Homo sapiens: one gene and its partners. The protein of the gene in region 7 interacts with the protein of the main gene of each other region in a pairwise test. Each region holds a gene or a part of one and is shown on either strand. Other genes may lie near its edges.

Region 1 (3,500 bases), on a different chromosome or scaffold from region 7:
GTGCGCACATGTGCATAAGTGACAGGGTATCCAAACACTAGGGCTGCAATTGTAAACCCAAAGTGGGGGCTGGGGCAGAGCCCCACATCCCAGAGTCAGGCAGCTCTGGGGGACACACAGTCCAACCCCACATGTGCTGCATGCAGCATGCAGAAAAGGATGATTTCCTTTTGGTTGTACAAATTGGTATCATTTCCCCCACCGCCACCAAATGAAAGTATACGGCGGCCTCTTTCAGGCTGGCATAAATGGGGTGCTTCCTCAAGAAGATGAGAGAAGAGAAATTATCACAGAGATGCCGGGTCTCACCTGGATTGGAGAGTGCTAAAGAGACAAACCCAGAGCAGGACACCTTTGGGATGGCATGATCTCAGAATGCCTAAAGCCCACCCCTTATTCCAGCAGAATGAGAACAACTAATGGGGGTTATCACACAGTCATGTCCATTTCCCCATTTCTTCTGAGATTTTGTAGAATGGCTTGAAAAAAAGGCTGCTAGGCCGGGCGTGGTGGCTCACGCCTGTAATCCCAGCACTTTGGGAGGCCGAGGTGGGCGGATCACTTGAGGTCAGGAGTTTGAGACCAGCTTGGCCAACATGGCGAAACCCTGTCTCTACTAACAATACAAAAAAGGAGCTGGGTGTGGTGGTGGGCGCCTGCAATCCCAGCTACTCGGGAGGCTGAGGCAGGAGAACTGCCTGAACCCAGGAGGCGGAGGCTGCAGTGGGCCAAGATTAAGCCACTGCACTCCAGCCTGGGCAACAGGGCGAGACTCTGTCTCAAAAAGAAAAAAAAAAGTGGCTGGCCCAGACCCAGAGAGCTGGTACACTTAGGGTCAACCAATTGAAACAATGAAAGGGTCCAGGGCAGTGGCCTATTGAGGACTTCAAACATTGCTCATTGCTCAGGATGAAGACACTAAGAAAGAAAACTTGATACAGACCATTTTAGATCTCTTTAGCAGATTTCTTTTTAATTGCACCATCCAGTAATTAAACGAGCAGGCTCCTCAACCTACTTTGAAAGAGACTAAATTTACAAAAAGAATCACTGCCCAATTTGGGGGAAGATATTCTGTCTTCTCCAAACAAAAACACAAGGATGGTCCCCTCCACCTCTGCCACAGTGGAGAATGATCTTTCTGCTCAGGGGTGACAAATGTTTCCAGTACTACTAAATTGCAAGTTGAATGGGGGCAACTTTTCCAGCTGAATTTGAGGTCCCTTCTACACTTCTGCTAATGGCTTCATGTCCCAGCTTTTGATTTGTGTATGACCAGAAAAACTTTTGCTATGATGCATTTGTCGGCAGGACATGGATGGCAACATCTACGTTTACTGTTCCTCATCACTAGCGCTAAAATCAAAGTGATTTTAAAAACCAAAAAAAGTTTCATGAAAATGAAACTCCAGATAGCGAATATTCTGAAACATAAAGCACTCGGCAGATCTCAGTAATGTCAGGTAAAGACACTCACTCTTCTGGAGCCAGGCTTGGATTGGAGAAGGGTGTGGCTCCCGTCTGAACAGTGGCCGAATGATTCCTGTCCCTCTGCTGACTGGCCACACAGCACCTGAGGACACAGCCAGGGCGAGGGATTTAGAGGTACACTGTTGTCCCCAGAGCAATTGAAAAGCAGACAGAAAATTACTATTTGGCCTCCTGAAGAGACACGAACCCGACTTCCATCCTTACGGAGACCCAACCAAGACCCTGGGTTAACAGTGGCTGAAGAGGCCAGGAAGACGTCTTGGAACAGCCATTCTAAGCCCCCCTGGGAGCCCAGGATGGGACATTCTCAGCCCCAGCAAAGGGCTGAGGACTCTTGATCCTCCATCTCACAGCTTCTTATATACTCAACTAACCAGCCTTAAACAATCAAGACATTTGTAAGGAATGGGATTTGTAAGCAATTGCTGAAATTCATTCTCCCAATTCTAGGCATGACTTGCCTCACAGATCCTGGCTTAACTCTAGTAGAATGAACATAACTGAAGGGAACAATTTCTAGAAGCTGGAAAGCAGCAGCTTACTCATCCATAAGTAATTCTTCTTCTCATGGGAGGGTTTGAGACCCAGGCAGAAAGAGAGGCCCTCCCCATTAGCCACAGACCAGGTCTCCACCCAAACCCAATCCCTGCCTCAACCTAGGACCCTTCACTTCCACTCACCGCTGCTTTGGGGGCTTCGACACCTCAGCTAGCCTGCGACAGGCCTCCTCCAGCTGAGCCAGCGTGTTGGGTGGGGTCAGGGGAGGCATCGCAGGGTCCTGGGTGAACAGGTGGGCACGGGGGGTGGTGCGGGGGTGCCCGCTGTTGCCCCCCCACAGATGGTGCCGGCTGGCTCGTTCGCCTGGAGACGAGCGGGCAGACTCCAAGGGGTAGGCCTTTTTTGTGCTTTGGGCACTAAACAAGGAATGAGCAGAGAGAAAACAGAAGGAAAGAAACTGGGTTAGAAGAACTGGAAAATGTGACTTCAATAGAAACTTGTCTATTCTGCTCAGAGAGAGAGTTAAAAAAAAAACTACCATAACATGAACAGGGGTCAGTGCCAAAACATGACATTTTTGTGGTCTGCTCAGTCCAACGTTTAATATTAAGATGGCAGGAGCAAATAGTCACATTTGTATTCCGCGGACTGCAAAAACAGCCATTCCCACAATACCTCCGTACTGAGTGCCCATGACCCTCGCGGCCGCGGCGGCGGCAAGCGGTGTTTACCTATGGGGCTTGGGCTTGCTCTGCCGCTCACTCTCCAGCATCCACTGCCAGACATCCTGCGACCTGTCTCCTTCCTCCCGGGGAAGCTGCAGGGCCCCAGCTCCGCCGGGGGCCCCTCCTTCCCTGGCGGGCAGGGCCAGGCCCGGCTCCGTGCCTTTCCCATTGCGTTTGGGCAAGGTACTGCCTCTGCTGCCGCTGTGGGGAACCAAGAACCACACCCAACCCAGAGACCCGGTTAAATCTCCGGGACTCCTAGAATCAGACAATTCAGCAAGTCGGGGGGCTGGTGACACGAAAGACCCATGCACCTGCTCCCCGCACCCTCACCCGGCCGTGCACTCTGCCGCCCTCTTAGAAACTAAATGCCTGTAATGCGGCTCCCACCTCACACCTGCCCATGGACCTGGCTGGGAGACAAGCCCCACACGGGACACTGCGGTCCGCCCGGCACTTACCCAAACTGCTCGCTGGGCATGGTTTCCGGAGCCTTGGAGTGGCTTTTGCATTTCGAGTAGCAGTAATACTCGCTGCCCCCAGGGCAGAAGCAGTGCACCCGCTGCGTGGCCTCCGCCTCGATCTCCTCCTTGGTCTTGGGGACGGCATGGTGGTGGATGTAGTGGTGGTGGACATGCTTCGTCGTCTGCTTGGTCACAAAGCCTTTGCCCCCGAGGAGGGGGCAGGCGCCCGGCGAGGCGGCCGCGGGAGGCAGCTTGCCACCGGGCGGGAGCAGGGAGTGGTACTGCGAATGGTGGTGGTGGTGGTGGTCCGGGGAGCGGGAGC
Region 2 (3,500 bases), on a different chromosome or scaffold from region 7:
TGTATTATGTTTATGGTTCCAGGAAGAGCCAAAGAACTCAAACCACCCAAGAAAGTGAGCTCCCTTTCCTCCGGAAGGCACAAAAAGAGGCTGCTGGTGGCAACATATTCCGTTGTTTCAGATGGCTCCGAGCCTGCCATGGCACTTGAACTCAGTCTGGTGGGGTACTGGGTCCCATGTAGGGAACTAAATTCACTGCAGCCAATGAAAAGTACTGTACAGTGAGGTGGAGTAGTTCCCAAGACAGGATGCATGCTTGGCTAGGGATGTGGGATGCTGAAGTCCTAGGGTGCTAGAACCTAGTTTGATTTCATTATCTCAGCACTAGAGATTTAGAGGGGAGAGTGGCCTAAACTGGGCCTTGGAGATCTGCCTCGGGCTAGTCTTGATCTCAAGGGCAGTAAGGCCAGCCCGTGGTTCCTATTTAGAGTAACTCAAACCCTCAAAGGGTGCCCGCTACTGACTTGGGATCAGGATAATTATTCTGGGGCATCTGCTTCCATCTCTGGCACTCCATTCTCACCCTCATCTCTCCTGTGACTGAAGGAAAAAGCCAGCAGACAGTTTACTAACCCAGAGGGCTTGCCTCCCTTTCACTGTCAGCCTGAGGAGTTGAAGTCACCCTTTGACCAAGTGATTGCAGGTCATCGCCGGTGGCGGGACACTTGGTGTCTTCCTCCAGGGTGATGATGGGGCTGAGAGGCAGCCTTGGTTCTGCCACATAGGCCTCCATTTGAGCTGTGGGAGAAGTGAGAGGCAGGTACAGCACGCTGGGTTTTTTTGGTACGGGAGGTGGAATCTTGCCTTTCTTTTTCTCAGCTTCTTCCTGGCTCTGGAGGCTAATTCTTTCAGGCAGAACCCTCACCTTGGGGCCCTCGTCCTCTACACTTCCCTGGGGAGGCTGCTGTGTTCCTGAGAAGAAAGCATCAGAGGAACTGGCAAAAGGCGTGAAAACAAGAGATGAGGGTGCTGTTGACTCCCCTGGGCTTCTGCCATCTGGGAAGCTGGAGGGCTTTGGTTTCCGCACTACCGTGTAGCTGTCTTGAGGGAGTGGTCTCGCATGTTGAATTGAGCTCCTGGGGGGCATAGCCAAGGTTGGTGAAGTTAGTGCATACTCCTCAGGAACAGATGGTGGCTTGTGGACCAAGCTTGGAGGCCTCCGGGCCACCGGAGGCTTCTCAGCTACGGGAGGTTTTGTCTTTCTCTCTGGCAAGGTGAAGACTTCTTCTGCTCTGGGTTCCTCGGCATACTCAGGGCTCTCAATATCATCTTCCGGCTCAGACTTGCTGACCGACCTCAGGCGAACAGAACGTAGGTCGGACTGAGTAACCATAGGCATGATTGGCTGGTTGGGATTAGTTTTCTGGGCCAGCTTGACGCCAAAATTTGTCTCTGAGTGGTGCCGACTCACCTTAGTTTTGCTTCGGATGGAGATACTCATCCCAGACAGATCCAGGTTGGGTGAAGAGGTCAGTGGTAGGTCAAATGATAGCCGTGACTTGGGAAATTTCTCCATTGGTGACGTCGGGGGTAGTGATGACTTCCTCTCAGGTACCACTGGACGTACCCGGACACTGCTGCTTGGAGGGGGTAAGTGGCCCAGGGTCAGGGACATGGAAACAGTGGGTGTTGGTGTTTCCGACTGGCTGGAGTAGCCACTGGAGGGTGACATCAGTCCAGGGGGCCTTCCCGGGGATGATATCTCCCTGGCCTCCACTTCAATGGAGAGTTGGGAAGGTGTAGTGGCTCTGGAGGTGGAAGGTGAGGCAAGAGACTCTGAGCTGCCCTGAACTTGGGTGCACTCAATGACTGTGGTGCCAGTGGCAGTGCTGGAGCTGGACAGGGATTGGTAGGTGTCACCAGACTTCCAGTCAGTAAGATACCAGTGGTGGGAGAATTGTGTACTTTCTGGATCTTTGTGGTTTGGAATAGCTGGGTGACCCTGAGCATCTGGGTGGGACGAGTGATGTCCTTGATGTTCCAAGGAGAGGCAAAGGCTCTTGGGCCTCTGGTCCTTGGGTAGTGCTGACCCACCTTCAGGCAAGAGGCCTGGCTCATCTTTGACCAGTGAGACACTGCGTGTGGGTGGGGAAGGCTTCTTTTTGGCCTTCCTAAGTGAGATACTCTTGGACCTCTGCCTTCTGTGCTGGGCCTCTTGCTGGGCACTAAGGGAGGCAATGTTGTCAGCACTGTTACTGCCCTCAGAGCTCGTACTGGCAAAAGGCAGGGCACAGGCCTCATTGGCCTTCTGCTCCTCATCATAGTCCACATCTGTGGTGCCTGAGTCTGTGGGCACAGACAGTGACCGCTCCCGGAATCTGCTGGCCCCACCGGGGCCTGTCTCCAGCCTCGAGGTCCCACTGGTCAGAAGGCCAATCTTGGAGGGTCTTTCGGGCATGTGCCTTTGCTGAATAAGGCGCTCAGGGTAGCCAGCTGACCCACTGCATCCTGCTGGGTTATCACGAGCGACAAGGAGGGTAGCAGCCTCCTTAGGAACCAGAGGTGGGACTTTGTTTAGAGAGACCCAAGAATTCCCACAGGAAGGATTTTTCCCATTTTCATTGACTTGATTGCTCTGGCTGGTGGCACTTGGAGTCATGTAGGTAAAAGCATCTCCCTTCCAGGAAGTGGAGAAGGTTGATTCTGTAGGTCCATTGCAAGAACTGGGGACACTGTACACCATTCCCATGCTCTCCATGCCAGGAGGGTTTGGGCCACTCCGTGCCTGGTGAGGTTCGTCCGGCTCACTGGAAGGAGTTCTCAGTACTGGCGAGGTGAGACTTGGGAACCGAGCATCCTGACCAACTGCAACTCTTCCATGAACCCCTTCTGGAACTGAGTGACTGGGCCTGATGTCGGAGGTGGTAGAGTGGGCCACACTGCCTGCTGGGCTGTTGCTGTGACCTGGAGGAAATAAACACAGGACATGAGTGCTACAGCAAGGGATCTCCCACCAGCTGTTTTGAGACAGGAGCACCAACTTTTTGCCAAGAAGCATTTGCCAACAGCTTGGTCAGAATTCCTTGGTTCTTCCCTTCCATGGATGAAGATGCTGGGGAAATTGGGTCCTTGCCCATCACCCCACAGTGAGACATACGGTGCCCTTGAATGGTCCAGATGGCTGCCAAATACTTTCCAGCTTTGATTATTCCTCTTAGAGCTGAAGTGTCACGTGGGATTACCTTGCATTTTCCCCATACTTTCACCCCAGGCTCATGAAACCATCACAGACCTCAGCATTCATCCATCTAGAGATGAGAGTAGAGGCTTCCGAACTAAGGACGGCATGGTGTGACGTTTGGCTCCAGCAATGACTCTGGAGCATGCCCAAGATGCAAAGCTAAGAGTCTGGTTGCATTGTTCGCACCCATCACTTTTAGGCTTTGCAACATAAGAGGCTGAGGATAATCTACGGATGTGAGGAAACCGTTTGGATGTTCCAAATCCCCAAAGGTTTTCTCATACACACAAACAATTAATACTGTCATGTCATTATTATT
Region 3 (3,500 bases), on a different chromosome or scaffold from region 7:
CTGTCTCTTCTAAGGACGCCGCGTGGATCTAGGACTCACCCCAATCCAGGCTGATCTTGTCTCAAAGTCTGTTCCATAATGACACCTGCACAGACCCTCCTCCCAAATAAGTCACGTTGGGAGCTTCCGGTGGATGCGTCTCTTGGGGGATTTGGCACAGGATGGAGGCTTCAATGTTCCCTGTCTGGTCCCCTTCCTTTCACACATGGAACTGAGGCTCTGAGAGGAAACAAAACAGGCCGCAGGCAGTGGAATGTGAGTCGCAGGCAGGGCTGGAGCTGAGGCGACCATGGGCCAGGGTTGGTACGTGGAATCCCATGCCGTCCTACGTGCATTCTGCGTGGAGTGGCCCAGCCAGGGTTCTGGCAGGTGCCCCCGACGGCACTGGCTTCCTCTCCAGCATCCCTGTTCCGTTCGTCCATCCCGCAGCACTGCACCCACTCCCCACATGCACGTGCACGCTACACGTGTGCCCCCAAGTGTGCGCCCCACCGCCTCCCAGCCCAGGCAGCTGGTCGTGGGCGAGGCAAGGAGGGGCCCCAGGGAGAAGGAAACTCAGGGCCTGAGGGCGAGACCATGGAGGATGCCAATGGCCACAGGGGCACGTGGCCCATTGCCCTCCCACTTGGACACTTTGGGGTGCGTGTGTCTGGAGGGGCCAGGAGAGTGGAGGGGACGCAGTGGAATAGAAGCTGCCCAAGGCGGTGGGGGTGCGGGGGCTCGTCCTCCTGACCTCCAGGCTGCAGCTGCAGGCTCTGCAGGGCCCGGCACTCGCCCAGTGAAGGCAAGGTCTTGGAGTGGTGGCGGACGGTCACCTCTAGAGATGATGTGGTCTCGCGTTCCAGTCAGGGGAGCGCCCAGCCCCGCAGCCCCCAGGCTGGGCTCCTCATCCTGTCCTGGTGGCCAGAGTGGCAGGCGTTGCGAGCAAGTTCAGGGCTGTGGTGTCAGGTGCGGACCTCCAGCGCGCAGAGCCTCATCCGAATACCGCTCACCGGTCAGAGCTCGGGTTGAGGGGGCGCGCTCCTAACCCCATTCTCTGGGGCCTCCTGGTGCAGAGGAAGCTTCCTCCAAGATGAGGTAGGAGATGGGAGGCAGCTGGCCACGGCCTCTCCGCCACCCACCCCACACCCTCCACGCCCCCGCCACTGTCACTGGGCCGTATCACCCATGATCCCCCCCTCGAAGGGAGGACGAGGTTCCTAAATCAGGCAGCAGCTTCCAGCTCTTTCCGAGGGGCACAGCGGGAGCTGCCATTTGTGACGCTGTCCAACCCAGCAGCCACTGGGTGTGTTTAATGGTAAGTTAGTTCACATCAGAGGCAGGTCAAGAGCCAGGACCGCAGACACACCCAGCTAATGGCTGCCACGCTGGACCCAGCAGATAGTTCCATCATCCCAGAAGGTTCTAGAACAACACTGGGGGAGGGCGGGCAGCAGACAGCACAGGCTGGGCAGGTGGGAATTCACCGTCAGGGACAGCCGGCAAGCAACACGCGGTGCCCCAAGGACTGTGGGAATGGGAGAGACCTGCCAAGACACATGTCCTGTGTCCCGGGGAGCCAGGCCAGGCCTTGGCACAAACAAGCACCTTCGGCGGGAGAGGAAGACACCGGGCAGGGGAGCAGCTGGGGCTGAGCCCATCTAAGCCTACCCGCTCTGGAGGACACATCTGCTGCCAGGACTGCCCAGCCATCCACGCACCCCCTCCCCACGATGCCAGTATCAGGCCCGGCGAGACTCACCGTTTTCCCGGTGCTGGAAGGAAGGGGAGAACTCTTTGGCAGTGATCCTGGCGATCCGCGCCTCCTCCTGGGCTTTCTGAGCTGCTGTGAGGGCTGCCTCGGCCTTTGCCCGAGAGTGGGAGGTCCTGGGGGAGACAGGGAGGAGCGTGAGGGGGGGCAGGGGGCACAGGTGACAGGGGTCTGGGTTGAGGTACTCTGCCAACCCCCCAACAACGGGCTGGGCTAAGACAAGATGCTGGCACCCCATGTTTACCCTCAGACTTCTGGATCTTGTTCGTTCATTCATTCATTCATTCAATAAACATCACTGAGCATCAACCAACCAGGCCCAGTGCACAGGACATGCTTGAAAACACCTCTGGGCAGGGCATGGTGGCTCACGCCTGTAATCCCAGCACTTTGGGAGGCCAAGGCAGGAAGATCGCTTGAGCTCAGGCGTTCACGACCAGCCTGGGCAACATGGCAAAAGCCTGTCTCTGCCAAAAATACAAAATTAGCTGGGTGTGATGGCACGCATCTGTGGTCCCAGCTACTCGGGACACTGAGGCAGGAGGATTGCTTGAATCTGGGAGGTGGAGGTTGCAGTGAGCTGAGATCGCGTCACTGCACTCCAGCTTGGGTAATAGAGCAAGACTCTGTCTCAAGGAAAAAAAAAAGGGGAGGGGCTGGGCACAGTGGCTCACGCCTGTAATCCCAGCACTTTGGGAGGCTGAGGCGGGCAGATCATGAGGTCAGGAGTTCAAGACCAGCCTGCACAACATGGTGAAACTCCGTCTCTACTAAAAATTACAAAAATTAGCCGGGTGTTGTGGCACGTGCCTGTAATCCCAGCTACTCAGGAGGCTGAGGAAGGAGAATTGCTTGAACCTGGGAGGCGGAAGTTGCAGTGAGCGGAGATCACGCCATTGCACTCCAGCCTGGGTGACAGAGCAAGACTCCATCTCAAAAAAAAAAAAAGAAAATGTTTCTGTTCTTATTATCAACAAACATCAGCATGTGCACAGAAAGAGTCCAAGCCCAGACAACCCACCCCGGCGGTGCCGGCCCGCTGTGCTGTGTGTGTCTGTGCTTCCTGCCACTGCCCCGGTGTGGGTTGCGGGACCACCTCCCTGCCCAGTAATCCCAGCAACTCTGACTTGGGAACCCAGGGCTTGGGCAGCTGGGCAGTTCCCTCACCCAGCCGAAAGATGACGCCGACACCCATGTGTGACACGAAGGAGCCATTGTACCTGTGGGCAGCCGGGCACGTCACCCCTCTGGCCGCTCCCTGACTGTGTCTCTCCCTCTGCTGAGTCCTGCAGGGGACCTGCCCACCCTTTGTAAGACAAGGGACTAGACAGACGTCCCGAAGGCAGAATGTGGGGCTCTGTGCATCTCAGCAGCCTGGGGCTTGCATTTCTTCCTACCTGGTGTGCTGGCCCCCGGGGGGGCCTGCCAGTGGCCATGGGCACCACTTCCCCAACAATGGGGAAACTGAGGCACAATGACCAATTCCCCCACGACAAATCCCCCCTCCGAGCAGACTCCCTGGGAGGTCTCCTGTTCACGGTTCCTGACTTAGCCTGTTGGGGCTGCAACAAAGCACCGCAGCTTGGGCGGCTCATCAATAGCAGACATTGCTTTCCCCCAGTTCCGGAGGCTGGAAGTCCAAGATCAAGGTGCCAGCAGATTTGGTGTCTGCAGAGGACCCACTTTCTGGGTCCTGGACAGCACCTTCCTGCTGGGTGCTCACATGGTAGAAGAAGCGAGGGTGCTCTCT
Region 4 (3,500 bases), on a different chromosome or scaffold from region 7:
ACTGCGCCACTGTACTCCAGCCTGGGTGACAGAGCGAGACTCCATCTCAAAAAAAAAAAAAAAAAAAAAAAAAAAGAATGCCTTTCACATCTCATTAATAAACTCATTCCCTGTAGGCCCGTGTCTCACAGATGTCAGTGGTTAGTATCCCAACTCTAGCTGTGATCGTCTCCAAAATTATGCAGTCTGCTTTTGTACTGGTCTAAAAAAAAAAAAAAAATCTAAGACTGTTATAGAAACCATTTGCTAGTGAGATACAAATTTTGAAGTTGTCTGTAAATTGAATTTTTATAAATTAAAATGGAATTATTTAGGTCACCGATTTTTGTTTTTTTTCTCTCATGCAGTCAATTCTTTGAGGCCTGTGCCTCACAGATGTCAGTGGTTAGTATCCTGACTGGCTTTGACTAGTGGCTAATCATGTGCTTTTTGTCTCTTTATTACACCCAAACACCATAAACAGAGCCAATGAAGAGATTGCTCAGGTTCGAACAAAAGCAAAGGCTGAGAGTGCAGCTCTCCATGCTGGACTCCGCAAAGAGCAGATGAAGGTGGAGTCCCTGGAAAGGGCCCTGCAGCAGAAGGTACAGAAAGGGACCTGATCTGGGTGGCCACAGAGACGTTTGGTTTTCCTCCTCAGCAGTGACTCACTTAATGACAGATCTGGGTGAAAGAGGCCTTGGCTTTCTACTCAGACATTTCAGTCCAGCTCCTTTCTGAACTGATCCAGGTGGAAACAAACAAGTCAAACCATTAAATTTTCAAGCACATCATGTGGAAATCATCCACAGGCAGGGTGCAGAGAGGAAGTTGCATTTTAACTGAAGTTCAGAACAGCTTCCTAGTTGGGGTCATGAGACTGCCTTTCTTTCTTTCTTTGTTTTTTATGCAATATATTAATATGAAGCCATCTTCCCCCTTCATTGCTTTAGATCAGTGGTTTGCAGTTGGGGGCAGTTTTGCCCTCCAGGGGATGTTAGGTGTTAGGTAATGTCTGGAGATATATTTGTTTGGTTGTCACCACTGGGAGATGCTGCTGGTATCTAGTGCAGGAAGCCAGGGATGCTGTTAAACATCCTACAATGCACAGGACAGCCTCTGACAACACATTTACCCATCCTAAAACATCAGCAGGGCTGCTTTGAGAAACTGCTATAGATAAATGAAAACCAGGACTAGCAACAATCCCTGTTTCTCACTAAGCAATTTTTAGCTTTCCGTTTTTATATGTCTCCGGTGTATTTTCTTTACTGCATTTCCAATTATGTACTCATACCTGTGCCATCCATTCATCAAGAGCAGGAGTTTTTATCACAGGGTCTGTTAGCCCCTAGAACGGTGCTCCCTGGGAGATTCAGACTCCAGCATCCCTAGATATGCTAATGGATTGAGTGAGACCCAGATACTTATGTTTTTGACAAGTACCCCAGATAATTCCTCTGATAACAAGAAAATTGGGGAACTAAGAGATTCATGGACAAGTTTCAGAGGGCTGGTGACTGTCCTCACCCTTTACTCAATTTAAGCATGATTTTATGAGTACATTTTTTGAGGTGTGTAGCCTTTTTTTCTTTAAAGCATCTCTGATGTAGAAAAGTTAAAAATCACTGAATTAGGATGTCTAGGGTAGGGTAGATCCAGACTTGGGACTAGTTAACTCTATTTGCCTTTATTTCAGAATACAAAGTGGCCTGCATAATTATGTCATTTGTCTTTCAGAACCAAGAAATTGAAGAACTGACAAAAATCTGTGATGAGCTGATTGCAAAGCTGGGAAAGACTGACTGAGACACTCCCCCTGTTAGCTCAACAGATCTGCATTTGGCTGCTTCTCTTGTGACCACAATTATCTTGCCTTATCCAGGAATAATTGCCCCTTTGCAGAGAAAAAAAAAAACTTAAAAAAAGCACATGCCTACTGCTGCCTGTCCCGCTTTGCTGCCAATGCAACAGCCCTGGAAGAAACCCTAGAGGGTTGCATAGTCTAGAAAGGAGTGTGACCTGACAGTGCTGGAGCCTCCTAGTTTCCCCCTATGAAGGTTCCCTTAGGCTGCTGAGTTTGGGTTTGTGATTTATCTTTAGTTTGTTTTAAAGTCATCTTTACTTTCCCAAATGTGTTAAATTTGTAACTCCTCTTTGGGGTCTTCTCCACCACCTGTCTGATTTTTTTGTGATCTGTTTAATCTTTTAATTTTTTAGTATCAGTGGTTTTATTTAAGGAGACAGTTTGGCCTATTGTTACTTCCAATTTATAATCAAGAAGGGGCTCTGGATCCCCTTTTAAATTACACACACTCTCACACACATACATGTATGTTTATAGATGCTGCTGCTCTTTTCCCTGAAGCATAGTCAAGTAAGAACTGCTCTACAGAAGGACATATTTCCTTGGATGTGAGACCCTATTTTGAAATAGAGTCCTGACTCAGAACACCAACTTAAGAATTTGGGGGATTAAAGATGTGAAGACCACAGTCTTGGGTTTTCATATCTGGAGAAGACTATTTGCCATGACGTTTTGTTGCCCTGGTATTTGGACACTCCTCAGCTTTAATGGGTGTGGCCCCTTTAGGGTTAGTCCTCAGACTAATGATAGTGTCTGCTTTCTGCATGAACGGCAATATGGGACTCCCTCCAAGCTAGGGTTTGGCAAGTCTGCCCTAGAGTCATTTACTCTCCTCTGCCTCCATTTGTTAATACAGAATCAACATTTAGTCTTCATTATCTTTTTTTTTTTTTTTGAGACAGAGTTTCGATCTATTTTAAGTATGTGAAGAAAATCTACTTGTAAAAGGCTCAGATCTTAATTAAAAGGTAATTGTAGCACATTACCAATTATAAGGTGAAGAAATGTTTTTTTCCCAAGTGTGATGCATTGTTCTTCAGATGTTGAAAAGAAAGCAAAAAATACCTTCTAACTTAAGACAGAATTTTTAACAAAATGAGCAGTAAAAGTCACATGAACCACTCCAAAAATCAGTGCATTTTGCATATTTTTAAACAAAGACAGCTTGTTGAATACTGAGAAGAGGAGTGCAAGGAGAAGGTCTGTACTAACAAAGCCAAATTCCTCAAGCTCTTACTGGACTCAGTTCAGAGTGGTGGGCCATTAACCCCAACATGGAATTTTTCCATATAAATCTCAATGAATTCCCTTTCATTTGAATAGGCAAACCCAAATCCATGCAAGTGTTTTAAAGCACTGTCCTGTCTTAATCTTACATGCTGAAAGTCTTCATGGTGATATGCACTATATTCAGTATACGTATGTTTTCCTACTTCTCTTGTAAAACTGTTGCATGATCCAACTTCAGCAATGAATTGTGCCTAGTGGAGAACCTCTATAGATCTTAAAAAATGAATTATTCTTTAGCAGTGTATTACTCACATGGGTGCAATCTTTAGCCCCAGGGAGGTCAATAATGTCTTTTAAAGCCAGAAGTCACATTTTACCAATATGCATTTATCATAATTGGTGCTTAGGCTGTATATTCAAGCCT
Region 5 (3,500 bases), on a different chromosome or scaffold from region 7:
TCTATATAGATTTGTATTTTTAAACAATCATACTTAAGGTAAATGTTGCAAATACAAAGTGAAATCAAACATCTTTTGTTTGACTTTTTACTGACCTAATAACTGTTAAAAAAAAGAAAAAAAAAAAACTAAAATGAACATATTCAGTTTAGACAACCAGAAAATACAAACTGGGGGGAAAGCTTACTGTATACTTTATGATCAAAAGTATACAGTAATATGGCTTTTATTTGTACATAATTTAATATGCTACTGTGTTATGCACACAAATCTTACTCTCCTTTCAAGGTACCCTTTAAAAAAAACTGTCAAAAATCTAATGCAAAATAATCCAAAAGAAATGTATGAGCCAAAACTACAATATACGTAAGTTTAAATTTTCCAGTAGCCATATTAAAAAAATTGAAATTAATTTTAATGTTATTTAACCCACTATATCCAAAATACTATGATTTCAAAATATAAACAATATAACAATTATTAAAGATCATTTCACAGTCTTTTTTATTCTGTGTATTTTAACTCACAGCATATCTCAATTCAGACTAGCCACATTTCAACCACTTAATAGCCACATGTGGCTAGTGGCTACCATACTGGACAATCCGGGTTTAATTAATCCCTTTATTAGACCAGTGGCAAAACTAGACTGGGTATAGTGAATAACGCCTGTAATCCCAGCACTTTGGAAGGCCAAGGCACAAAGACTGCTTGAAGCCAGGAGTCTGAAACCAGCCTAGGCAACAAAGTGAGACCTTCTTCTCCACAAAAAAAATTTTTTAATTAGCAGGGTGCGAGTGAGTAGCATGCACCTCTAGTCTCCGGTATGTAGGAGGCTGAGGCAGGAGGATCACTTGAGCCTCAGAGTTAGAGGTTACAGTGAGCTATGATCAAGCCATTGCACTCCAGCCCAGGTAACAAACAGAGTGAGACCCTGTCTCAAATAAATGTCTAAAGGATAAAAACTTAAGAAGAAAGCTGTCAGAAAAAAAGGAATATTACTCATGAATCTACCAAAAAAAGAATTATATGCAAATGCCCAATAAATAGATGGCAAGTAACATCACATTTGCACTGCAATGACTTCTACTAGTTTAAAACTGGTGAAGGACAATCCTAAAATTTGCATTAAAACCTCCAGGAATGATTTCCATACTTACAGCATTCGCACCCTTTGGGTGCTCTCTCTTTGTTAACTTGATCTGTGTGTGTTCGTGATAAAGGACTATGCTCTAGTAATTACAGCTGTTATAAAGCTTTGCACAATGCTAAGGGGTATGTGTCTTTAAAAAAAAAAAGAAAAGAAAGTGGGTCTATCTCGCTCATTGTTCTTAACCATTTAGCCATATCTGGTAACCAGCAGGTGCTCAAATATTTGTTGAATGAATGAATGAATGCCACTGGTATTTAATAAGGCATAGAACTTCAGTGCTGGAGATATGGCATGTGACAGAACAACTGGCCCAACCTACCACCCACAGCAGAAACACCCTCCACAATATTGCAGACAGTGGCCACCCACCCATTGTTTTAAACAAAGTCTTCAGATACTGATGGCCCAAATGCTGCATGGGTCACAGCCAAAGACATGTTTTGGCTGTCCTGCCCTATTGAGCTGGTGTGGTATTGTTAAATAATCTGAATTGAAAATATTTAAAAAACAGATTTCACATGGAAACCACTATCAAGTTTTTGTGAAAAACCAATAAATCTGACAATCTGGCATCTTCAACCCTGACACTGCCAAGTGGTTACTGCCCCCTTTAACAAGGCATCCGTTTCAGTCTCCACAGTCCCAAACCACACTCTACTTCTCCAATAAGGAGTCGTAAAATCAGTTGGCTGCTGTCACTTTGGGCTGATGGTTTTCTTACAGTAGTTGAGCTAAAGGGAAAATCAAATATTTATTGTCTCCATATTTACAGCGAAAAACTAAAATGAAGGAGAGTCCTATATTTATTATGCCTGGGGCTCTCTTCATTAATGCACCCGTTTGGCCCTGCAGCATCTAAATTTGACACCTGATGTAAACACATTTAGTGGCAGAAGTCTGATATACTTAGCCCATTTCATTTCTGGACAGCCTTAGTGGGGTGTGTGTGCGCGTGTGTCTTCTTTCATGCTAAGTTAAATCTGCCTTCCTATTCCATCTACTCATTGACCTGGAACCTCTGCTAGAGATATCCAGCATACTCATTCTATCCATAAGAAAACTATCATATTCTGCAGTCACCCCTTCTCATCTCCTGTAACTGTTCTTTACAGAGAAAAGTTTTCAAACTCCACCATTCTAAGTTTCCCCTCTCAGGACATAATCTAACTTCGTAGGGTTCTTCCTAAAGAAGAGGGAGAAACATCCCAGTAATGCTATTTCGGATCTAGACAGTGAAATGTATGGTGTAATGGAGCTCATATTCCAAAAGACAAATGCCATTATTACTGAATATAAGCCATTGTGGCACTCTCTGTACAAATCCTGTGGCAGAGGTTTCTCATTCAACATCCATTCAACAAATATTTATTAAGCATCTACAGAGTACCATGTCAGGTAAATTCCTGAAAACAGAAAATCATTCATCTTGTTCTTCATATGAATCACATAAAAAACTAGCCAAATCTTAACATTAAAAGCCTACAGAATTTTGTGAAATATGTATATAAGTGCAATCTAATTATAAGTAGAAATATCTAGTACATAACTAAAATTTTATTTGTTTTTGCTAAATATTAACATACAAAAAGTTTTCTTTGGTCAATCAAGCATGGGTTCCCAATTAGCCAATGAAGATCTACCAGCAGAATATCAAGTTTTATCTAGTAGGACTGATTTCAAGGGATGCTGTCTTTCCCTCCTCAGTGCGCCAGATTGGCAGCAAGGGAGGAAACATAAAGGTGATGACTAGCCATTAGGTAGTCCCACTCCTTAACTCTGCAGTATTTATTTTCCTATTACCATATATGAATGTTTTCCTAGTTAGTATTTCAGTAGTCCATTATTCTATGTATCAAGTACATTGCACAGTCAGAATAATTCCTAAAGACAAACATAGCTTTTTTTTTTTTTTTGAGACAGAGTTTCACTCTTGTTGCCCAGGCTGGAGTGCAATGGCGCGATCTCGGCTCACTGCAACCTCCGCCTCCCAGGTTCAAGCAATTCTCCTGACTCAGACTCCCAGGTAGCTGGGGTTACAGGCACGCGTCACCACACCTAGCTCATTTTGTATTTTTAGTAGAGATGGAGTTTCTCCATGTTGGTCAGGCTGGTCTTGAACTCATGACCTCAGGTGATCCACCCGACATGGCCTCCCAAAGTGCTGGGATTACAGGTGTGAGCCACTGTGCCCAGACTTACAAACACAGTTAATAAGGAGTTTAACACAAAGTTCATGTTCAATATCCAATATCTACTTCAAGTATGTATCAAAAGACGAGAGTTCATTTTGACATTTTAACAGTGGGGGAGGCCCCTTTATAACTACAGTTTTAATTTATTCACCTGG
Region 6 (3,203 bases), on a different chromosome or scaffold from region 7:
TTCAGATCATCCATGGCCTCTGACTCTGAAAAGGAGGTGAAGGTGGTAGATCCCCATACTGCTCAAGCCCAGATTTTTTTTTTTTTTTTTGTAGATGGAGTCTCGCTCTGTCACCCAGGCTAGAGTGCAGTGGCGCAATCTCAGCTCACTGCAACCTCTACCTCCCGGATTCCAGTGATTCTCCTGCCTCAGCCTCCTGAGGAACTGGGATTACAGGCGTGCACCACCACACCCAGCTAATTTTTGTACTTTTAGTAGAAATGGGGTTTCACCATTTTGGCCAGGTTGGTCTCGAACTCCTGACCTTGTGATCTGCCCATCTCGGCCTCCCGAAGTGCTGGGATTACAGGTGTGAGCCACCATGCTCAGCCTCAAGCCCAAATTTTATGGTACCTCTCATACAGAGCTCTGGGGAGAATGAAGTGAACTTGGTAAGATTCAAACAGATAATTATCTCAGCTTCCACCCTCCCTCAAGAAGGAAGACACAGTGAAAAGCCATTTCTGTAGCGCACTTTATAGACCAAAGCTTAGACAAGGTGGAGGCTAAAGACCTGAGGAGCCGAGTCAGGGAAGACAGATTCCAGCCCTCCCTCAAGGCAAGCCTCTTTGAACACACCTTGGAACTTCCAAACACTTGTTGCCATTGTCATCCTCTTCTGGTCTAGAGAACTCAGCTCCTTCTGGGACTCAGGGTTGGGGAGTACCTTTATCAGAAGGGAATGAAGGAAATCCCATCAGCAGTTCCACCCCTCTGGGCCAGCTCAGTCTGTGGCCTCCATCTTGGTCCCCCGGGGCACAAGGAAGATGGTCCCATCGGCAGCCTGTTGCAGCGCGTACTCTTCAGGAGAGTAGCTGTTGCCTGATTCATCCCGAAGGTGCTGGAAAATGTCACGGTACAGCTCTGTCAGCTGTTGGCGCATGACCTCCAGGGTCCGGTCTGCCTCCCCGCGGGCCCTGAGAAGCCGCTCCCGTTCATTGGTCAGCCGCTCCAGCTCCCGCTCCAGCTGCACAATGGTTTCCAGCTTCCTCTTGCGGCAGTTCTGGGCTGCCACCTTGTTTTTGCCCCGTCGTCGGATGTCCCGGACTAGCGCTAGCTGGCTCTCTGTCAGCGGGTACCTTGCCAATAGCTCATTAAAGTCATCTACCGGCAAGTTGACAATCTTGTCCGTAGGAAAAGGAATCTTCATGGCCAAGGCCCGACGTTCATCCCGACTCCCTGCCTCCCCCCGTGCAGTGGGCTTAGCCCGCACAGGGCCTGAGGAGGGCTCTAAGGCCAAGGGGGTCTCAGCAGCTGGCAAGGTATAGTTGGAGTGGGCCAAGGAGTTGGGCATGAGTGAGTAGGGGTACTCCACTGGGTACATCTCTACATATTCGCTGCGCCGCCGACCAGCCTCTGTCCCCTCCAGCTCAAGAGATTCAGCATCGCTATAGTTGAGGGATAATCCTGAGTCGGATTCTGGGTCTTCTTGGGGCTTAGGTGGCCCTGCTGGCAGCCCAATGTCCAGGAGGGCTAAGGGGTCTTGGAGCGGCTCACTGAGCAGGCCTGAGAGGCTCAGTGGCTTGGAGACTGGTATGGCCATGTTGCCATAGGAGTATGGGGGATCTGGGACATGGGATGTGGATGCTGGGAGCTCATAAGGTGGTGGAGGAAGTGGGAAGCCAGAATCTGGGTGGATTGAGCAGGGGCAGTAAGTTGTGGGTGGTGGAGGTCCAAGGTATGGAGCTGGGGCTTGGGGCTCAAATGATGGCTCACTTGGAGCATTCAGACCCTGCAAGGAAAGACACAAAGAGATTTGGAGACAGACTAAGGAAGAGAAACCAACACTCTCTCAGGAACAAGCTGGATTCTTCTGAAAGTCGCAGTGAGGTAGTAACAAGGAAACAAAGTTGCCACAAATCACGGGAAGCTTCCTGCAAAGTTATGATACAGTTGTTGCAAGAAAAATGCAGCTTAAAGCCAGGAATGGTGGCTCACACCTATAATCCCAACACTATGGGAGGCCAAGGCGGCAGATCACCTGAGGTCAGGAGTTCGAGACCAGCCTGGACAACATGGTGAAACCCCATCTCTGCTAAAAATACAAAAATTAGCTGGGCATGGTGGTGAATGCCTGTAATCCCAGCTACTTGGGAGGCTGAGGCAGGAGAACTGCTTGAACCCCGGAGGTGGAGGTTGAAGTGAGCCAAGATAGTGCCACTATCCAGCCTGGGCGACAGAGCAAGACTCCCTCTCAAAAAAAGAAAAAATGAAAAATGCAGCTTTAGCAAGAATGGAAGTCACTGAGGTTGGACTGCAGAAAAGACTACCTAACATTGGAACAATTATGAACTCTCCTTGGAGAAGCTCTTACTGGGTTGAAATGGCTCATGTTCGGCCAGGCATGGTGGCTCAGGCCTGTAATCCCAGCACTTTGGGAGGCCAAGGCGGGCGGATCACAGGATCAGATCAAGAACGTCCTGGCTAACACGGTGAAACCCCCTGTCTACTAAAAATACAAAAAATTAGCTGGGGTGGTGGCAGGCGCCTGTAGTCCCAGCTACTTGGGAGGCTGAGGCAGGAGAATGATGTGAACCAAGATTGCACCACTGCACTCCAGCCTGGGCGCCAGAGCGAGACACCGTCTCAAAAAAAAAAAAAAAAGAAATGGCTCATGTTCCTTTATTTCCTTCAGGAAGTCAAAGCCTTTTTATCCAAGATGACCCCTCAGAACCCTTTCCTGCTGCAGTTATCTAGGGTCAAAGGGTCAAGTTCAGATCCTGGCCATGCCCCAGATGCCCAGCAGAGGGAGCCGCTGTGTGGGAAGAGGGCCTAGGGCAGATCCTGAGGGTGCTAAGCATGGTAGCAGGGTAGTAAAAGGGGGGTGGCTGGGGGCTAAGAAGCACCTTGGGGAGCCAGCACAAGCTCTGCCTTCTCCTCTTCAGTCCCTCTGTCCCTGCCCAGGTGCAGCGAGAAGTAGAGAACATGCTAGAAACAAGGCCCCCAACCTACATCAGGGAGCCACCCTGCTCCAGCCCAGCTGGGGACAAAGGCATCATTGTCAAGCCAACAGACACCCCTTTGTCCAAGTAGCAGGAGGAGAGGACCCTGGCATAGTCCGACTCCCCTTCCTGAGGCCCCTGAACTACTGCTCTGTTACCTGGGGTAAACGGGCCCAGTTGCCAAGGGCAGGCGGAGGTAATGAGGGAAGAAGATGGCAGGAT
Region 7 (3,500 bases):
AACAAAAAAGATGGGCTCAAGTTGCTGGAGGCACTACCTCATGAATAGGCTGCAGAACTAAGGGGTTGACCAGGGGGATTCATGCAGATTCCCAGGGCAGTTTTTTTTTTTTTTTAAGACAGAGTTTCGCTCTTGTTGCCCAGGCTGGAGTGCAAGCATGATCTTGGTTCACTGCAACCTCCGCCTCTCAGGTTCAAGTGATTCTCCTGCCTCAGCCTCCTGAGTAGCTAGGATTACAGGCACCTGCCACCATGCTTGGCTAATTTTTTTTTTATTTTTAGCAGAGATGGGGTTTCACCGTGTTGGTCAAGCTGGTCTTGAACTCCTGATCTCAGGTGATCCATCTGCCTTGACCTCCCAAAGTGCTGGGATAATAGGCATGAGCCACCGCACCCGGCCCCCAGGGCACTTTTTGAAGGCACAGGTGTACAGGTCCTCAGATTTTGGACAGGTTCCAATTTGAATAATTATATTCTCTCTCCCTTAGTACCCCCTGCTGTTTCTGGTGGATACAGAATTCTTATTCACTCCCTGCACTAAACTGTTGTGTAGAGTTGCTGTGCAGCTGTTAAACAGCTGCCACATTTCTCTCCATATATAGTCTCTAAAGCATTTTTGGATGAAAGGAATTATATAAACATATTTTATTGTCATGTACTGGTTGCCTTACCACTTAGTTGTAGGTTTTGTGAGGTTGTAACTATTAAATTCAAATCCATATTCCACAGCACATCAACGTTTAATTTCTTCCCCCACCTGCTCTCCAATGCTCTCTAAACAGCAAGGCTCTTACCACAAGGGTCCGTAGACAGAGTGTCCCTGCAGGAGCACGGGGGTCCAAAGCAGCCACAAGATCCCACACTTTAATTTTTCTAAAGATCAAAAAGGGGACAAAAATGTTAGTTAAAAGCAAATGTAAGAGAAGGCAGGGAAGAATAGCAGAAATTCATGGCAATAAATATGGATGGTGAGTATAGTTCAAATGTACGTGATTAACCTACAAATGAGAAACAGGCTAGCTTTAACCAAACTGAAGACAGTTAACAGTAAAGTTATACCATACTTTGGGATCAAGAGGAGATCTTGTACATTAGACCTTTTAATGATATTACACAGACCTAGAAATCTACAACTGTGAAGCATCCTCTTCCTGGGCACTTCTAAGAGTGGCCCAGGTCACATGTACTGAGGGACTGGGGTCCATGTAAGAGCAATGGAGTTTATATAAGCAAGCCCTCATCTTTTGATTTAAATAAGATAAGTGTAGCTCTTCCAAAAATCTTTTAATAGGCCATGTTTCCTCAAGGTACATAGCAGACAAATTCCAAGACAGGTGGGTACAGATCAAAGCCAGGACAATAAGAAAATATTGTCTTGACCAAGCTGGAACATGTCACCACACTCTGAACAATTTCCCAAGGTTGTAACAGTGATGGCTGTCCCAAAGCAGAAGAAGTGAGCAGTCTACACTTCCTGCTGCTTGCATTGGCTAATGAATGTATCAGTGTAGTTAACTCATGAACTAAAATAATGTTGTTAGTTTCTGATATTTAAAAAGCTGCCAAAATCAGGCAGATTGACAAAAAGAAATGATAAGAGTTCTTCCTAAGTGAATAACTATTTTTTTTTCTTTTTTTGAGACGGAGTCTCGCTCTGTTGCCCAGGCTGGAGTGTGGTGGCGCAATCTTGGCTCACTGCAACCTCTGCCTCCCTGGTTCAAGCAATTCTCCTGCCTCAGCCTCCTAAGTAGCTGGGATTACAGGCGCCCGCAACCACACCTGGCTAATTTTTGTACTTTTAGTAGAGACTGGGTTTTGCCATGTTGGCCAGGCTGGTCTCGAACTACTGACCTCAAATGATCCACCTGTCTCGGTCTCCCAAAGTGCTGGGATTAAATGCATGAGCCATTGTGCCCAGACTACTTTTGTTTGAATTTACTCTGTGTTTAGGATTGGTGGACATGGGGTCCATTCACAAAATTAATGGATTCCATAACCACTAGAAATTAGAAGAAAATAAAGATGACTAAACTCATAAATGAAATGCTAGGATGACAAGTGATGACAAGAGAACTGTACTCTTAAAAATTACTCAAAGAGATAAAAAACCCAAGAAATCAAAATTCAAGATCTTACCACACTAAGTCCCCAAATACTGCCCTCTAGTGTTTCTGTTTTGTTAACAGGTTACCCTTTTACATGGGTAGCCTGTTAACACTGGGTTTTTCTTGTTCTTTGCTTTACAGGGCAAAACAGTCAAATACATAACCAAATAACCAAAATATGAATGACAACCATGTGCAAACAAGTATAATAAAATGAATGGGAAGAATATTTCAGGACACTAAACCAAGGAGAGGTAAATACACGGATTAAAGAAATATGGTATCAGATATTTTGTGTAAAATCTATAAGCTTTTAGAAACAAGGAATGGTTATGTTTAACACCATAAACATAAGGAAGGATTAAGACGTAGATTTTCTCTTTTTTACACTCTGTTAGCACACTCACCCATCATAGGCCCCACTGACTATCCTCTTGTTATCAAATCGAATACAACGCACCAATTCCTCATGGCCTTCTAACACTCGTAAACATGCACCACATTCTATGTCCCATAATCTGGAAGAGAAAATTAAGTCAGGTGAATTTTCACGTATTCTTTTCTAAGCCTGGAATGTTATAACAATACACCTCATATGCCTTCTAAAAATTCATAAAATAAAATCAATCACCACCCACACAGATATGTACTGCTTTCAATGTAATTTATTTCCTTTCTGCTATATAACTCACACAGAAATATGTAGGTTTAAGTTCAAATGTAAAATGTATTTTCAAAGCACAGGGCTTTACATAATTCTGTAAACAGGTTCTTCCAGGCATAAAAACGAATTCAATGCACGCAGTTGCCTGAGAAGGAAATGACCAAGCTAAGAAAGCAGTTTCCTGAAGTCACCAAACTGAAAGAGATACAGATTATCAGTGATGTCCTGTTCTCACAAAGCACCTCCCCCTCTGCCACGGCAGACACTTCTTTCACCACTGTCCAGGACAGCTCTTCTCAGAGAATAGAAATGCAAAGTCAGTTCTCAAGAACTTTTGTGTACTAATTATAAAAACTGTACGTTTTCAGAGCAATTCAAGTGATTTCTAGGAATAATTTCCTTAGATATAACAAACAGTAGCTCTTTTTTAATGGCCTTTTCATCCTTTTAATACTTCACTGAAGGGAGAGGATGGATAAATCTTCCAAATTATAATCATATCTATGTCATTCATCTTTGTGAAGGGAAAACCCCAAAAAGGACTTCCAACTGTGAAATCTTCATAATTTCAAAGACAGGTAACTCTCTGGCCAATTATGTAATGCTAAGACAAAAATTACATAATTTCTAGTAAGGAAACAAATCTTTCTTTTCATTTCTTAAAAACAATGGCAAAGAAAAGGCTGTTAGCTGTTTATTAGCACTTTTCAACGGTAGACAGGAGAAATTTAA

The links.
Region 1: the proteins of BTRC (region 7) and AXIN2 interact in binary tests that used the Homo sapiens proteins (3 or more experiments, as listed by UniProt).
Region 2: the proteins of BTRC (region 7) and NHSL2 interact in binary tests that used the Homo sapiens proteins (3 or more experiments, as listed by UniProt).
Region 3: the proteins of BTRC (region 7) and JPH3 interact in binary tests that used the Homo sapiens proteins (3 or more experiments, as listed by UniProt).
Region 4: the proteins of BTRC (region 7) and TACC1 interact in binary tests that used the Homo sapiens proteins (3 or more experiments, as listed by UniProt).
Region 5: the proteins of BTRC (region 7) and TRIM36 interact in binary tests that used the Homo sapiens proteins (3 or more experiments, as listed by UniProt).
Region 6: the proteins of BTRC (region 7) and NFE2 interact in binary tests that used the Homo sapiens proteins (3 or more experiments, as listed by UniProt).

The regions. Positions count from the first base shown.
Region 1 is NC_000017.11:65,534,149-65,537,648, forward strand, and holds part of AXIN2 (axin-2), read right to left. Parts: coding exon 3,176-3,500; intron 2,916-3,175; coding exon 2,721-2,915; intron 2,406-2,720; coding exon 2,172-2,405; intron 1,574-2,171; coding exon 1,478-1,573; intron 1-1,477. UniProt on the Homo sapiens protein: Inhibitor of the Wnt signaling pathway. Down-regulates beta-catenin. Probably facilitate the phosphorylation of beta-catenin and APC by GSK3B.
Region 2 is NC_000023.11:72,137,845-72,141,344, reverse strand, and holds part of NHSL2 (NHS-like protein 2), read right to left. Parts: intron 2,905-3,500; coding exon 574-2,904; coding exon of another isoform or gene 569-573; exon of another isoform or gene 1-568.
Region 3 is NC_000016.10:87,682,508-87,686,007, reverse strand, and holds part of JPH3 (junctophilin-3), read right to left. Parts: intron 1,867-3,500; coding exon 1,742-1,866; intron 1-1,741. UniProt on the Homo sapiens protein: Junctophilins contribute to the formation of junctional membrane complexes (JMCs) which link the plasma membrane with the endoplasmic or sarcoplasmic reticulum in excitable cells.
Region 4 is NC_000008.11:38,846,236-38,849,735, forward strand, and holds part of TACC1 (transforming acidic coiled-coil-containing protein 1), read left to right. Parts: intron 1-463; coding exon 464-584; intron 585-1,719; coding exon 1,720-1,788; 3' UTR 1,789-3,500. UniProt on the Homo sapiens protein: Involved in transcription regulation induced by nuclear receptors, including in T3 thyroid hormone and all-trans retinoic acid pathways. Might promote the nuclear localization of the receptors.
Region 5 is NC_000005.10:115,159,909-115,163,408, forward strand, and holds part of TRIM36 (E3 ubiquitin-protein ligase TRIM36), read right to left. Parts: intron 1-3,500. UniProt on the Homo sapiens protein: E3 ubiquitin-protein ligase which mediates ubiquitination and subsequent proteasomal degradation of target proteins. Involved in chromosome segregation and cell cycle regulation. May play a role in the acrosome reaction and fertilization.
Region 6 is NC_000012.12:54,291,611-54,294,813, forward strand, and holds the end of NFE2 (transcription factor NF-E2 45 kDa subunit), read right to left. Parts: exon of another isoform or gene 3,140-3,203; intron 1,772-3,139; coding exon 764-1,771; 3' UTR 501-763; downstream 1-500. UniProt on the Homo sapiens protein: Component of the NF-E2 complex essential for regulating erythroid and megakaryocytic maturation and differentiation. Binds to the hypersensitive site 2 (HS2) of the beta-globin control region (LCR).
Region 7 is NC_000010.11:101,535,665-101,539,164, reverse strand, and holds part of BTRC (F-box/WD repeat-containing protein 1A), read right to left. Parts: intron 2,623-3,500; coding exon 2,512-2,622; intron 873-2,511; coding exon 794-872; intron 1-793. UniProt on the Homo sapiens protein: Substrate recognition component of a SCF (SKP1-CUL1-F-box protein) E3 ubiquitin-protein ligase complex which mediates the ubiquitination and subsequent proteasomal degradation of target proteins. Recognizes and binds to phosphorylated target proteins.